Linked DNA regions of Homo sapiens: region 1 is linked to region 2. The links come from fine-mapping of genetic effects on gene expression. Tissue or cell type: whole blood. Region 2 holds a variant in brackets; the other region holds the start of a gene. All regions are shown on one strand. Distances are from middle to middle.

Evidence for each region. PIP is the estimated chance that this variant, and not a neighbour inherited with it, causes the effect.
Region 1: it holds the start of MCCC2, and the variant in region 2 is fine-mapped to the expression of MCCC2 in whole blood (TOPMed, PIP 0.93).

Annotation. Positions count from the first base shown.
Region 1 is chr5:71,582,913-71,591,094 of GRCh38, forward strand. MCCC2 (methylcrotonyl-CoA carboxylase subunit 2) reads left to right here and starts at 4,428. Exons shown (of 17, transcript NM_022132.5): 1 at 4,428-4,642. The coding sequence starts at 4,514. LOC124900999 (a long non-coding RNA gene) reads left to right here. Exons shown (of 4, transcript XR_007058810.1): 4 at 39-1,342. RefSeq lists an enhancer at 4,087-4,873.
Region 2 is chr5:71,654,042-71,662,223 of GRCh38, forward strand. It overlaps MCCC2 (methylcrotonyl-CoA carboxylase subunit 2), which reads left to right. Exons shown (of 17, transcript NM_022132.5): 17 at 2,702-4,665. The coding sequence ends at 2,819. Among named protein-coding and RNA genes, the nearest start is that of CARTPT, 61 kb to the right of the region's middle. The variant G/C (reference allele first, on the strand shown) is at 4,062.

The DNA.
Region 1 (8,182 bases), 71 kb before region 2:
AGCCTTTATCACAGCTTGGAGTCTATTATCTTCTGTAGATGCAGGGCAGTTTGGCCGAGAATCAAGCCAGGATTTGACAAGAAGGGAGTTGAAGGGTCAATGAAAGGTACAGTATGATATAAGGACACTACACAGGAAGGAATGGAAAGCTGAGAAATAGGATGGACACATTTGGGCAGATGTGGTCAAGACCCAGACTCTCAAATGCCCAAATCCCCTTGAGCTTTTCTCAGAGTGGAGGCAACCTACCCTCATATCCACTCCCCATTCCTGACCAGCCTTTCCCTGTGTAAAAGGCACTTAGTCGCTTCATCTGGGGCAGTTGCCTTATGAGCTGATGCTAGTTCTTGTAAGGGACTGATCCTACCCTGCCTCCTTGCCTCTGGATCTTAACAGAAGTTAGTTATTCCAGTGCAAACCAAAAAGTACTGAACGTGGCCCAGAAAGAGATAGTTTCTTGCCAGTGTGTATTGGCAAGAGTTAGGGAATATGGAAATGGATTGTTACGCCAAGGAAAACAAATATAAGGTTGGATTGGGATAAATGTATAAACATGAGTGCATGTGCTGGCATGTCAGTCATGTTTTCCAAAGATAGTCACACAATGTCTCTCATCTTTTCTGCCAGTGGCCTTGACACTCCTTCCATTGAGTGGTGGGGTCTATGTCCCCTCCCCTTGAATCCAATAGAGTACAACCAAAGTAATACCATGTGATATCCCAGGTAAGGTCATTAAGTTTCTACAGAAGAGACTTGATAGCAAAGGAGAGCCTGCCAGGTCTAACTGCTCATCCTGACCTCCCAGCTTCTTGCCTGGCCTTTAAATAACCCTCCCTTAGGTGTCCTGGAATGTCTCCTTGCTCTGATTCCAGAGCAGTTATTTTTTATGTATTCATTCAACAAATTTAGCGTCTGTAATATGCCCAGCATAGGCCATAAATGATGACACTGACAAGACCCCAAGTTGGAGAAACTAAATGAGCCCTAACAACAAGTGCTGACCCGAGCCACAATAGAGGCCTGTTGAAGGGAGAAAGAGGTAATGAGGTGGGGTCAGGGAGGGCTTCTGGAGTAGGAGATTCCTGAGCCAAGTCCTAAAGGATGTGTATGGGCTCACCAGGTGGAGAAGATGGAACGGACAAGTCTGGTCGTGGAAAGATGCCCTGGGCAGAGGGAACGGTGCGGATAAAGGAAGGAGAGCAAGTGGAAGATGGCAGCCAATGGGAATGAGCAATGCATGGGAAGGAACTGAGGGTGAGATGAAAGGCAGCGCACCAGGCTGCAGAGATCAGCCCTGGCGGTTACATTTTTCAATTAATTCTCTTATTTTTATTATATAAAACATTATTTTGGCCAGGCGCGGTGGCTCACGCCTGTAATCCCAGCACTTTGGGAGGCCGAGGTGGGTGGATCACGAGGTCAGGAGATCGAGACCATCCTGGCTAACACGGTGAAACCCGGTTTCTACTAAAAATATGAAAAATTAGCCAGGTGTGGTGGCGGGCACCTGTAGTCCCAGCTACTCGGGAGGCTGAGGCAGGAGAATGGCATGAACCCGGGAGGCGGAGCTTGCAGTGAGCCGAGATCGTGCCACTGCACTCCAGCCTGGGCGACAGAGCGAGACTCCCTCTCAGAAAAATAAATAAATAAATAAATAAAATAAAAACATTATTTTACTTTATTTTTATTTTATTTTTATTGTTTTTTTTAGAGACAGGGTCTAGCTCTTGTCACTCAGGCTGAAGTGCTTGGCAAGATCATGGCCCACTGCAGCCTCAAACTCCTGGACTCAAGTGATTCTCTCACCTCACCCTCCAAGTAGCTAGGACTACAAGCACATGCCACTGTGCATGGCTATTTTTATTTTTCAGAGACATGGGCTCACTATGTTGCCTAGGCTAGTTTCAAGTTCCTGGCCTCAATAAAACATTATTTTAAAAAATCAGAGATGGCAAAGATTATGTTCCTTGTAATCTCAATAGTGGGGTAGAGAGACACTGGACACTAACAGATGCTAGGTGACTGCTTTTGGCCTTCTGTGCATTTGCACTTCACCTTTTGCATTTTTCTACTTAGCTGTTCTGGGAACATTATACATTTCCAAAGAGCTTCTTGTAACAAAAGTTACAAGAAATAAGAAACATGTATGACTTTTTTTTTTTTTTTTTTTGAGACAGAGTCTTGCTCTGTCACCCAGGCTGGAGTGCAGTGGTGCCATGTCGGCTCACTGCAGACTCTGCCTCTCGGGTTCCAGCGATTCTCCTGCCTCAGCCTCCCAGGTAGCTGGGATTACAGGCACGTGATACTATGCCTGGCTAATTTTTGTATTCTTAGTAGAGATGAGGTTCCACCATGTTGGCCAGGCTGCTCTCAAACTTCTGACCTCAGATAATCCACCTGCCTTGGCCTTCCAAAGTGCTAGGATGATAGGCATGAGCCACTGCACCCGGCCAAAACAGGTATGACTTTTAAAGAAAGCAAGGAATCATATCCTATTGTGTCTTTTCTGTCTTCGGGTGGTGATTTTAAGTACTTTGCATCATTGAAGAACTATTTAGAGAAAAATAAAGTGTGGCAATTAAAATATCAAACCCTCTCTTCTGATACCCTGATACATATGAAAAGTCAGTTTTTACTGGCCTTTTTTTCTGTTGACCATGGGAGGCAAGCACAGTGTAAATCATACCTTTGCAGTTTAGCTCATGCTCTCCTCCATTTGCACAAAGCCTGGCCATGTTCATTGCTCAGTCCACTCTCAACGCTTCTGCAAGGCTCAGCTGCAACCCTTTCCCAATTGCATTCTGTTCCTTTAATGTCTGTCCTACACAGTTCAGTAAGAAATCATGTGGCCATTTGTATTATTTTCTTATAAGTACCTTGAAGTCTGAACCTAAGTTTACCTCCAGGTGTAGACGCACCCTTTCTCTACCCCATCCTCCCCCTTTACTCTGCCCCACTAAGCAACCAATGGAGTAGAAGTAGTAAGTGCTCAATAAATATGTGAATGAAAAACCTTAAGTTCAAGGCATTTTGTATAGAATGTTTTAATTTTTATGGGTATATTTGGAGTCCTTTATTTAAGACCACAGTGCTGATGTCCACAATCTGTCACTACATAGTGCCTGGTGTGGTGGCTCATGTCTGTAATCCCAGCACTTTGGGAGGCTGTGGCGGGCAGATCGCTTGAGTCCAGGAGTTCAAGACCAGCATAGCCAACATGGTGAAACCCCTACAAAAATAAAAAATTAGCCGGGCTTGGTGGCACAAACCTGTAGTCTCAGCTACTGGAAAGGCTGAGGTGGGAGGTCAAGGATTCAGCGAGCTGTGATCGTGCCACTGCATTGCAGCCTGGGCGACAGAGTGAGGCCCTGTCTCAAAAAATGAAATAAAGTAAAAAATAAAAATAACTACATAGCGAAAATAATCAGAAGAATGTTTAAGGTCTCCAGTGAAAGGACAACAGGCTTGTTGTGCTGTTCGCAAGCACGTGTTAGATGCGATTCACTCATGTTGTTGGTGTGTCACTGGGGGTTGTGACTGCAAGTTGTCCAGGTTCTTGGCATTGTGAACAAAGAATTGGACAAAACGCCCAGCAAAGCAAAGAAAGAACAAGGCAACGAAAGAACGAAAGCAGGGATTTACCGAAAACGAAAGTGCACTCCACAATGTGGGAGCGGACCGAGCAGAGCTCAAGGGCCCGGATATAGAATCTTCTTGGGTCCAAATACCCACTAGAAGTTTCCTATTGGCCATTTTATGCTCACCTCAAACCCGATTGGTTGCAAGAAGCAAGCAGTCAGAGGCTAGGGTGAAATTACAAAGTTATACTTCTATGCAAACGAAGACTGGACCCCCAATCAGTCTGATTGGTTGTGGACAGCAACCATTCAGAGGCTGGAGTTAAGGTTCAAACTTGGCAAAGCAAGCCTCCACCAGCAGTAAGTCTGATTTGTCGGGGACAGCCAATTTCCTATCTGCCCTGCGGAAAAGGTGGGGGGGTTTGCAAAGGGAGTAGCCTTTGGTCCTTTTGTTACTTAGGCATGGAAAGTTAGGGTTTTCCTTTCAGTTTAGCTCTAGGAAGTCAGCGTGAGACAGCCTTAGGTTCCCTGCTTCCAGACTTATTCTCCTGCCTTAGGTACAGTCACTATCGTGATATTATCTATCGCTGTGTCAACACAACACCAATCCAAGCCCAACCGCAGCTCTCTCACTGCCGCACCGCTTCGTGAGGGTCGATCCGCCGGGGAGACCTGCTCTCCTGCGCTCGGGACTAGACGCGACCTCGCGGGGCTGAGGCTCTGTCCCTTATTGGCTGGGTCAGGGGGCGTGGCGCGGCTTGACCAATCGCGGGCGGCGCGCTTAGGCACGTGTGTGGACAGGCCTGAGAATCAGAGAAACCTTCTCTGGGGCTGCAAGGACCTGAGCTCAGCTTCCGCCCCAGCCAGGGAAGCGGCAGGGGAAAGCACCGGCTCCAGGCCAGCGTGGGCCGCTCTCTCGCTCGGTGCCCGCCGCCATGTGGGCCGTCCTGAGGTTAGCCCTGCGGCCGTGTGCCCGCGCCTCTCCCGCCGGGCCGCGCGCCTATCACGGGGACTCGGTGGCCTCGCTGGGCACCCAGCCGGACTTGGGCTCTGCCCTCTACCAGGTAGGCTGAGCGCCCCGGTGGCCTGGCCGCCGGTGCCAGGCTAGGAAGCAAGTGGAGGAGGGGCACGCTTCAACAACTGCTGCTCTCTTGTCCGGAGCCCCAGTTGATTCTGTGACGCACGTGAAGTTTGAAGAAGAAAAGCCTAACAGATACAAGAAAGTTTAGTTCACTTTTAGAGCTGGCACTGTACTTTGTGTCTTTGAAATCAGTGGTTCTTAAAGCCTGGTTTAGAATTGCCACCTGGGGAGCTAGCTGAATAGCTGCCTGAGCCCTACTCTGGACCTTGTGGGTCTCAGGTGGAGTCGCTGTGTTTATATTGTTAGTGAACTCATTAGGGGACTTTTGGCAGCCAGCTTTGGGAACCACTGGCCTAGAGCAGCCCAACGAGGGGCGCTGTGCTTAGGAAATTTGAGTTTAAAAGTTGATTATGATGGCCGAGCCCAGTGGCTCACGCCTGTAATCCCAGCGCTTTGGGAGGCCCTGGCGGGTGGATTACCTGAGATCAGGAGTTCGAGAACAGCCTGGCCAACGTGGTGAAACCCCATCTCTACTAAGAATACAAAAATTAGCCGGGCATGGTGGCGCGCGCCTGTAATCCCAGCTACCTGGGAGGCTGAGGCAGGGGAATCGCTTGAACTTGGGAGGCGGAGGTTGCAGTGAGCTGAGATCGTGCCATTGCACTCCAGCCTTGGCAACAAGAGCGAACTCTGTCTCAAAAAAAAAAAAAAAAAAAAGTTGGTTATGTTAATAGAAAATATCCCACAGTATCTTTGAGTGGCTTTTCTTGGAATTAGGAGGCATCATAAGGCCAAAAAACTCAAAACTTGCGAAATATCAGAGCTGGAAAATTTCACTGTGTTCCCACGATTTCTAAGCCTATACAGATAACATCTAAATAGTGCAAACAACACACAATTGTTTGTCAGTCCAGAATGTTTAATTCAGAATTATTAAGTGGTTATTGTGGTCTAGGCACTATTTTAGATATTTGGCATGGATGCGTAGGAATGGAACTAATAATTTTGTAGGGAAGATGGACAAGAAAGCAGGTAACTGTGGTACAGTGTAAGAAGGGTTGTCTAAAGCTTGAGAAGGTGGTTACAGAAAGCTACCGATAGGAAGTAATGGGTGAGATGAATCTTGGGTAAGAGCTGGCCAAGTTCAGGGTGCAGGATGGAAGGTAAGACTGTATAAACCAAGAGAGTTACAAGAACATAGGTACTGAGTTATGAAAGTGTATATCTGGTGTGAGGACTTGAATTCCATGTCTAGGACATGGAATTCATTGAATAGTGTCTGGTGATGGGATTGATTGATTATGGGGCCAGATAGAGGAGGATCTTCCATGCAAAAGCCACATTTAGATTCCATTTGGCAGGTTGTCCATTAAAATATTTAAGTAGATAAGTGGCATGATCCTATGGATATGGTAGAATCATCAGTGTGGTGGCAATGTGGAGGATGGATTGATATAGGGAAAAGACTAGACCTAGGTGACAGTGGAGAGTTGAGTCTTGAGATGAAGGAGTCAAAGTTAGAGTTGTATGTAGGAGGGGGGCATAAATACCTGAGGAGCAAAGATTATAGAGTTAATAACTGAGTGGAAGGGGAAAATGGATGACTTTGGAGTTTCCAACTGGGCAGAATATTTAGTTAGGTGGAACTGCCATTAATACAAAGAAGGCTTTGGTGATGGGTTTTGTATGAATCACCTTTTGCTAGGTTGCGCTTTGTGTAACAAATAATCAAAAAATCTCAGTAACTCACAACAGTAAATATTAGTCTCTCACTTGATTTTGTTTTGTTTCTTAATCTCTCACTCGTGTTGGTGGCCTTTGGTTAGCTGCTGCTGTGACTGTTCCACTGCAGGGTAGGTTCAGGTCTGCTCCATGTGTCTTCCCATTCCTGGACTGAGGCTGAAGAGCAGCCCTGAATTAAACATGCCCTTCTCATGGCCGAAGGCACAGGAGCAAGAGGCTGAACACAAATTGGATTTAAAATCCTTGCTGGCATGTGATGAAATTAATGTGTGCTCACATTAGACAAAGCAAGTCCATGAGGGTGGGGGAGAATGGGATGAATGATCCAGTTTAGCTGTGTTTCCTGATTACAAATAAAAGCAACTATAATAAGTAATAATAATGGCAGGAATTTTATAGTGTACCCACCATTTTTCTAAAGGCTTTATGTGGTTTTACTCATGTATTTATCATAATGATCCTGTGCAGTAGGTACAATTGTTATTTCTGTTTTATAGATGGGAAAACTGTGGTATATAGGGTCCAAGAAATTTGTCTGAGATAACACAGAGCCTGAATTTGAAGCCAGGTGGTCTGGCTCATAACTCTTGAGTCCAGGGTCTTAACTGTTGCTCTATAATGCTTCTCACTCACCCAGCTCTACCTAGGTGGGTTCTATGGTTGAAAAGATGGGGTGGGAAACTTGTCAGTGGCTCAGCTCCAATTCATTATGACTGTCAGGCACTAACCTCTGTGGTTGCTCAGCTTCACAAGAAAATTACTAGGTTGTAGAATGTTGTTTCGCAGGTGATTAAAACACACACACACACACACACAAACACAAACACCTGGCGTCCTGAGAGATCAAGATTTGCCAAATGCAGTATCAGTAAGTAGGGAAACTGAAAGTTGAACTTGGTTTTGCCACTAAACTACACTGCCTCTTGGTTAGTGAGTCTCATCCTAAGGAGGCTAGGTTGGTTGATAAAGGATTGCCTGGGAGGTGAACTGTAGCCAGTACTGGCTCTTCTGTGATTTAAGTCTGATGGGCTGAGCTTGGCACAGATGTTGCCCAGTCTGTAGAGGCAAATGTCAGCTTCAGTGGGTCAGTGCTTTTCTTCTTTGACCCACTGGTTGCTTAAAAGTACGTTGTTTAATTTCCATATATTTGTGAATTTTCCAGTCATCCTTCTGCCATTGATTTCTAGTTTCATTCCATTGTGATTGAAAGGATACTTTTGGGCCAGGCATGGTGGCTCAGGCCTGTAATCCTAGCGCTTTGGGAGGCCGAGGCTGGTGGATCACCTGAGGTCAGGAGTTCTAGACCAGCCTGGCCAACATGGTGAAACCCTGTCTCCACTAAAAATAAAAAAATTACCTGGGCATGGTGGCGCACGCCTGTAATCCCAGCTACTTGGGAGTGTGAGGCAGGAGAGTCGCTTGAACCCGGGAGGCGGAGGTTGCAGTGAGCTGAGACTGTGCTACTGCACTCCAGCCTGGGCGACACGGCCAGACTCCGTCTCAAAAAAAAAAAAAAGGATACTTTGTATGATTTCAGTCTTTTAAAATTTATTAAGATTTGTTTTGTGGCCTGACATGTAGTCTATCTTGGAGAATGTTGCCTGTGCACTTGAGAAAAGTTACATACTTTTTTCTGCTGTTGTAGGGTGACAAGTTCTGTATATTGTGTTAGCTCCAACTGGTTCTTTCCCTAATACCATGCTGCTTCCTTGTTTTTTATTTTCTGGATTTTGCAGAGCAAGAGAATGTAGCAGAAATCATGACCCTCAGAGCTCTTGGA
Region 2 (8,182 bases):
GTTTGGAGTGCAGTGACGTGATCTCAGCTCACTGCAATCTCTGCCTCCCGGACTCAAGCAATCCTCTTGCGTCGGCCTCCAAAGCTGGGACTACAGACATGTGCCACCACACCTGGCTAATTTTTTTGTATTTTTTGTAGAGATGGGGTTTCACCATGTTGGCCAGGCTGGTCTTGAATGCCTGAGCTCAAGTGATCCTGCCTCGGCCTCCCAAAGTGCTTGGATTACAGGCGTGAGCCACCTGTAATCGTGGCTGGCCAATATTTGGGAATTTTTAAAGGTTTTTTGCTGAATATATATTTTTACAAACAAATTTACAGGTATATTTTATTGTGGTGGTTTGATTCATTTAATTAAGAACAAAATATTTTATAGTCTTTGAGAGCTAAACATGTTCCTGATTTTATCATCGTGTAAACAGACATATAGTAGCCAGTAAATGGAAAGAAGCAATAGAAAGCCGTATAAGAGGTTTGAGATGAAATATAAAATATATATTGTTAAGCTTTTCTATAGTTTTTTTTTTCCACATAAGATTTTGACTGAAATACACAGGGACAGCTGAAATATTAAAGTTTGAAAAATTGTGTATTTTGTGTGAGCTGTTAGCTTGTTTTTCAGCCCTGGCTAAGATAAATCATCTCTTGAGAAAGATTGCATCTTTTATTATTTTCATACTAACATTATTATTATTTTTTAATGGATTACATTCAAGGCAGAAGAGTAAATGGCCCAGAGAGACTTATCTTTGGAAATAAATGTTAACAGACAGTAAAGTTTTCTGTGGATCTGTAGATTTTTTTTTTTTTTTTTTGAGACAGAGTTTCTTGTTGCCCAGGCTGGAGTGCAATGGCATGATCTCGGCTCACTGCAACTTCCGCCTCCTGGGTTCAAGGGATTCTCCTGCCTCAGCCTCCCGAGTAGCTGGGATTACAGGCGTGTGCCACCACGCCTGGCTAATTTTGTATTTTTAATAGAGATGGGGTTTCTCCATGTTGGTCAGGCTTGTCTCGAACTCCCAACCTCAGGTGATCCACCCGCCTCGGCTTCCCAAAGTACTGGGATTACAGGCATGAGCCACTGCACCTGGCCAGATCTGTAGATGTTTAACCCTTCTGTTGAAACAGCTGGTGGCATGGAGACAGCAGCTTTCTTTCAAAGCTGAAAGGATTTCCAAGCCAGTTTATGGTACCTTCCTTGGGTTTAGTAAATCTCAGCTTCACAGTAAAATTCCCTGGCCTGCTTAGGTTTGAACATGGCTAGATCTGTCTTTTCAGAGACAGAGCTTGTTATTATCAGTTACTGAAACCTACAATGTTTTCCTTAATCCTAATAGGTTACATATGTAGCGTGCCAATTTGCTTCTGCTCAGTTGTTTTTATAATCAAACTTTTATCCGGCATTTCATTAGTGCCTCTTACCTGGGGCAGTCTTTTTAATGAACATTATTAAGCAGCCCCTTCATCACCATGCTTGCTGTGCTGCAGGCTTCAGAGGGAGTGTAATCAATTCACCTGGTTGCAGATGACAAGAGTGGCTTTCTTTTTATTGGGTGTTGATACTTTAGGGTCCCTATTATGAATGTTTTATGAGCAAAGGTTTGATTCATGTCTGTCAATGTAAGAATGGTTTAATAGTTGATGCCAGGTTCAGATACCGAAGGGAGTTTATATAAAAAAAGCAAACTGCCACCTACTAATAACCTTTAAAAAGTAATATTTCTCAGTCATTTTTCGTTATACATTTGAGGTTGTCAATGAGAAGGAAACTAAAATTTCTACTTAAAAGTTTCTTCTGCAAGCAGTTTAAAGTTATTGTTTTTCCTATTGTAGCAAAAAATAAAGACCTACATTTGAAGGTATCTATTTTATTAATAAAATGTACTGAAGCTGGCCGGGTGTGGTGGCTCACGCCTGTAATCGCAGCACTTTGGGAGGCTGAGGTGGGCGGATCACCTGAGGTCAGGAGTTCAAAACTGGCCTGGCCAACATGGCGAAACCCCGTCTCTTCTACAAATACAAAAATTAGCCAAGTGTGGTAGCGCACTCCTGTAATACCAGCTGCTAGGGAGGCTGAGGCAGGAGAATTGCTTGAACCCAGAGGGCGGAGATTGCAGTGAACTGAGATCGTGCCACTGCACTGCACTCCAGCCTGGGTGACAGAGCGAGACTCCATCTCAAAAATAATAATAATAATAAATAAGATAAAATGTACTGAAGCCTATTCAATAATTTTCATAGTTTCTTAAGAGTTTGGATGGGGGTTGGGGAATATACATTTTCCAGTAAAGTTTGAGGTTATTACCTGGGTATATGTGGTTCTGCATATTAATGACAGAATACACCAACTTGGCTTATATATTTGTGTGGGAAGAAAAGGAATAGGAAAATTTTTCCTGAAATAAGTAAACGTATTGTCAAATTAGGGGTTACTTTGAGATCTCTTATAAAAGTAGTTCCTTAAGCCTTAAGCCTGACATGACATTCTGTGGTGGCCTGGGATGAAGGTCATATCATTTTTTTCCACGTTTTCCCCCTCTGTCTTGAACGTAGTTTCTGTTGTGAGATTATGGTACATGGATGCTAATCAGTAGATCCATATATTACCTGAAGGAAAACTTCCTTGGCATTTCTGCACATGGAGAGTGTATAAATGGTAGTTTGGTGGTAAATTCATAACTCTTTTTTTGTTCTTTTGTCAGGGTATGGGATGATGGGATCATTGATCCAGCAGACACCAGACTGGTCTTGGGTCTCAGTTTTAGTGCAGCCCTCAACGCACCAATAGAGAAGACTGACTTCGGTATCTTCAGGATGTAACTGGAATAAAGGATGTTTTCTGTTGGACATGTACTGAAAATTAACACATGTAGTAGCCTTAAAATTTTAGACTTCTCGAACATGAGGCTGTTACAGTAATTTTTTTAACACTGTGCATTGTACTTTTCTACCTTAAAAAAATCAGTGAGGATATTTATTTAATGAACATCAATTCCTTTTAAATTTTCTTAGAGAAATTTCTCTGTGGCTCAGTTTTACCACCCATAAAGCGGAGACAGTAATTTACGGTTATCCTTTCTGACCCACAAAGTATGAAAAGTTCTGTAATCTGTAAACTCAGTTCTGTAATCTGTATTATTGAGATGATTAATATAAAGTTGTATTTTCACTGAAATGATTGTTTTGCTGGTTATGCTTGGTGATATTTTAGCGGGCTTATTTTTGAAAGGCATCTGTTACTTCAGTGGCATAAAGTGCCCTCACACTGCTGTGCAGCCATCACCACCATTCATCTCCAGAATTTGTTCTCAGTCCCAAACTGAAACTATACCATTCAAACAACAGCGCTCCCCATTTCCCCCTCCCCCGAGCCCATGACATCTCCTTATTATTATTTTTTTTTTGAGACAGGGTGTTTCTCTGTTGCCCAGGCTGGAGTGCGGTGGTGTGATCTCGGCTCACTGCAGCTTCCACCTCCCGGGTTCAAGCGATTCTTGTGCCTCAGCCTCCCAAGCAGCTGGGACTATAGGCACGCACCACCACACCCAGCTAAGTTCTGTATTTTTAGCAGAGACGGGATTTCACTAGGTTGCCCAGGCTGGTCTCAAACTACTGACCTCAAGTGATCCACCCGCCTCGGCCTCCCAAAGTGCTGGGATTACAGGTGTGAGCCACCGCGCCTGACCACATCTCCTTATTCTTAAATGTATGTGTTTCTCATGGTTTGATTTATTCTTGCTGGGCCATTTCAGCCCCTGTCATGGCTTCACTCGCCATCTAAATGCAGATGATTACTGCCTTGACGGTTCTTAACCCAGCTCTCCCCTGAGCTGCAGGCCTGCATATCCAGTAGGTCTACTGGACATCTGTACTGGTTGTTGTGGAGGAACCTCTGGCTTGCTCATTAAGTCCTACTGATTTTCACTATCCCCTGAATTTCCCCACTTATTTTTGTCTTTCACTATCGCAGGCCTTAGAAGAGGTCTACCTGCCTCCAGTCTTACCTAGTCCAGTCTACCCCCTGGAGTTAGAATGGCCATCCTGAAGTGAAAAGTAATGTCA[G/C]ATTACTCCCTTCAGTGATTTCTTGTAGAAGTGCCAATCCCTGAATGCCACCAAGATCTTAATCTTCACATCTTTAATCTTATCTCTTTGACTCCTCTTTACACCGGAGAACGGCTCCAGCTGTTCTAGCTCTCTTTCAGTTCTTTGAACCTTCCCACCTTAGGGTCTATAAGGTTCCCTCTGCCCAAATTGTTCTACTCTCCCTTCTTCTTCAACACATCCTTCAGTTTAAGCACTTGCTTCTCTCAGTTTAAACTCCACTTCCTTAGGGATGTCTCTGTGACCTCCCTGTGCTGGATTAGCTTCCCTACTCTATGCTCTTGTAAAACACTATCTACTTCCTTTGTCATAAACTCATCATTTTCCTATAAACATTAATATTGTCCTCCTGCTAGAATGTAAGCTCCGTGAGAGCAAGGATCCTCCTGTTTACCCTGTACCTCCAATGTCTGGCACTTGTAGGTGCTCAAATATTCGTTGAATGAATGAAAAATCCATATTGTAATTGATGTCCTCTGGCCACATAGTTTTAAAATTAGGTGATTGATTATATGACCGAATAGAACTATCAAATGTTTTCCTAATAAAGTCAATATTTCAAACATTTGTGTGTGATATTTAGTATTTTAAACATTTGTGTGTGATGTTCAATGTGTACCAGGAAGTCAATTTAGTTTTTGTGGGGAGAATATAGATAGATGATCAAATTCAGTGGTAGGTTACATTTTCAGAAGCAATACATTAAGTATATTAAAATAGTAATATTAAAATTTTAATGAAAATGCACATCTATGTCAAAATGATTTTCTATATAAAGACTAGGTAATATTCCTTTGGTAGGAACCATTAACAAGTCAAGGATTCATGGATATTTTAGGACTGCTTTTGCTTTTCTGGGAAGAAACTGTCCATCAATAAAACCACATTTAAGTGAATTGGATTTTTTAAAACTTATTTTTCTAGAGGCAGGGTCTTGCTATGTTGCCCAGGCTGGACTCGAACTCCTAGGCTCAAGCAATCCTCCTGCTTCAGCCTCCCAAGTAGCTGGGACTACAAGCTTGCACCACTACGCCTTGCTCTATTTTGTATATTTTACCCAACAATAAACATTTATAATTGTCTTACCAAAATAGGTAATACTTTTTAAACATTTTGACTATCATAAATATGAATTCCAGCAAGGATAATATGAGCTACTTGGAATTTGAAGAAATATACAAGTTAGTCTCTAAATTTGCCCCTGTTGGTACTTAAAGAATGAAAAAGACAAGATTACTTCTATTTTTCAGTTTATAAGAAAAGTATTTTCAAATCGAATTTGTTAAAAAAAAAAAAACACTTCTGCACCAGCAGAAGGCACTATTGAGTGTTTGAGTGACACCATCATTTGCCAACATGCTTATGTGTATGTCTCTCCAGAGAGAGGCCATATGTTTCCTTCACAGGGATAAATCAAAGCAGGTTTTGGAATGATACATTAATAAGATTATTTTTGAGAGGCCACATTAGTTCTAAAATGCATTGAGTTTGGTTTTATGGAAGATTAAATCTCCACTAAGAGTCTTGGCGATTTTTTTTTTCTTAGTGATCTTCTAATGATTGGTTCTGAAGTTTCATATATGGAAAAATGGCAAGAAGATGAACTAGGTTATCATAGCCTAGTGTCATTCATAACATTTCCCTTAAAATGTTACAATTAAGTACAATTAATATTTAATGATGACATAGATTTTAATCATTTTCGACAAAACGTTTTGTGCCTTTCCACTAAACGCTTAAAAATAGTTTGTTTCAGCGGGGCACCCTGGCTTAACACCTGTAATCCCAGCACTTTAGGAGGGTGAGGCAGGAGGATTGCTTGAGCCCAGTGGTTGGAGAACAGCCTGGGCAACATAGCAAGACCCTGTCTCTACTTAATAAATAAATAAATAGGTAAATAAATAAATAGTGCTTTTATTTTATGTGCTTCAAATTCTCTTGTATCTGGAATCAGGATCCTGAGGACTAAGTTTTTCTTAGGGATGAATGAAATTTCTATGCCCCTTTTACCTTTCTAGGCAAATGTACATTCCATCAAGTTGACTGTGTAACTTACCATCCACATTGGGGCTTTTGAGAGTGAGAAAAAGGGGGTCTTAATAATAACTACACTGGGAAACAGGTCTGAACTGGGACCGACTCATCCCAGTTTGAACTGGGATGTGTGCTCGCTGCCTGTAACATCATCATGACTGAATACTTTGTTTGCATATCAGCTTTTGAAAATTCTTAGAAGCCTTCGCTCAAGATACCTGCTTCATGACTTTCAATATAGATTTCAGTATGATACCAGTCACATAATATGTGTGCATTAGCATTCTAGGGAGTCATTTAATTGACCCTAGAGGAGAGTTTACCATAGGGCAGGGATGATTTTGTTTCCCAGCTGTTAGTTTTCTGAGATCAGTGGTTCAATATGTCTGGCAGCTTTGTCTTTCACAAACCAAGTCACATGTTTGTGCTACTTTTTAGGGTAAGCAAGAGAAGTATTTTTCAGGGAGAATAAGGTCTTAGAAGGTGATGATTTCACAGAGAAGTTATCGCAAGGAAAATATACCCAGAACCAGATGTTAGAAGTAAGCTGGAGTAGAAAAAAAAATTTTTTTTTTTTGAGTCAGGGTCTCGCTCCAGTGCCCAGGCTGGAGTGCAGTGGCGTGATCTTGGCTCACTACAGCCTCTACCCCTTGGGCTCAAGTGATCCTCTCACCTCAGCCTCCTGAGTAGCTGGGACTCGGGCACATGCCATCACGTCCGGCTAATTTTTGTATTTTGTAATTTTTGTGTTAGCAGAGATGTGTTTTCGCCGTGTTGCCCAGGCTGGCTTCAAACTCCTGGACTCAAGTGACCCGTCTGCCTTGGCCTCCAAAAGTGCTGGAATTATAGGCATGAACCATTGTGCTCAACCAAGAAAAACAATTTTTTTAAGTGTAATTCAGTAAGTGTTGATTGTAAGAAGTGAACTCAGAAGAAAAACAGGTAGAATTTTAGAATACTCAGACTAATTTTAAACGTTCCTGTAGAAAATGTATTCAACATTTTTCAGCCACAGCACTGTTAATGACATTCCTTTATCTACCGGATAATTAGAAATAATTTTTGTCTTAAAGTTATTTGTAATCTAAAAATCTAACAATGTTACTTGCGGAAAATTTAGGAAGACAAAGTGAAGAAAATAAAGTGAAAAAAAAGCTTCATAATCTCACTACCTAGAGATAACTGCTATTAATATTTTTCGTGTACTAGTCTTTTTCTATCTTTACGAATTTTTTTTTTTTTGCAAAAATGCTGTGTGCTACATGTTATTCTGTAATCTGCATTTCACTTAATGTATTGTAAATATAATGACCTGTTTACATGAAATTTAATATTCTGCAAATTTTTTTCTTTTTTGAGATGGAATCTCACTCTGTTACCCAGGCTGGAGTGCAGTGGCATGATCTCGGCTCACTGCAACCTCCGCCTCCGGGGTTCAAGTGATTCTCCTGCCTCAGCTTCCTGAGTAGCTAGGACTACAGGCGCGCGTCACGACACCCAGCTAATTTTTGTATTTTTAGTAGAGACGGGGTTTCACCATGTTGGCCAGGCTGGTCTCGAACTCCTGACCTCAGGTGATCCACCCACTTTGGCCTCCCAAAGTGCTGGAATTACAGGTGTGAGTCACCGCACCCAGCCTAATATTCTGCAATAACTCTGATGTTGCACGATAATGCAGTGCATGAATCCTCCCTTTGATTTAACTACTCCCCTATTGTTGTACCTGTAGGTTTTTTCTGGTTTCCCACATTACAGATAATGCTGCAGTGAACATCTGTTTAGTTTCTTTACATATCTGTGATTATTAGGATACATTTTTAGCAATAGTGTTGTTGGATAAAAGTGTACAGGTTAAAGTATACACAGACCTTTAAGACTTGTTGGTAAGTTTTGCTCTATAAGTGTATATTATGGTATTTATTGCTGGATGTAATGGTTACCGTGGTGTTTTTAGATACAGAAATAGCTTCCCATAGAATTAAATTGTTTAGCAGAAACCAATGTTTTCTTTCATTGTTAAAAGTTGTGTCTAGGCTGGGGCATGGTGG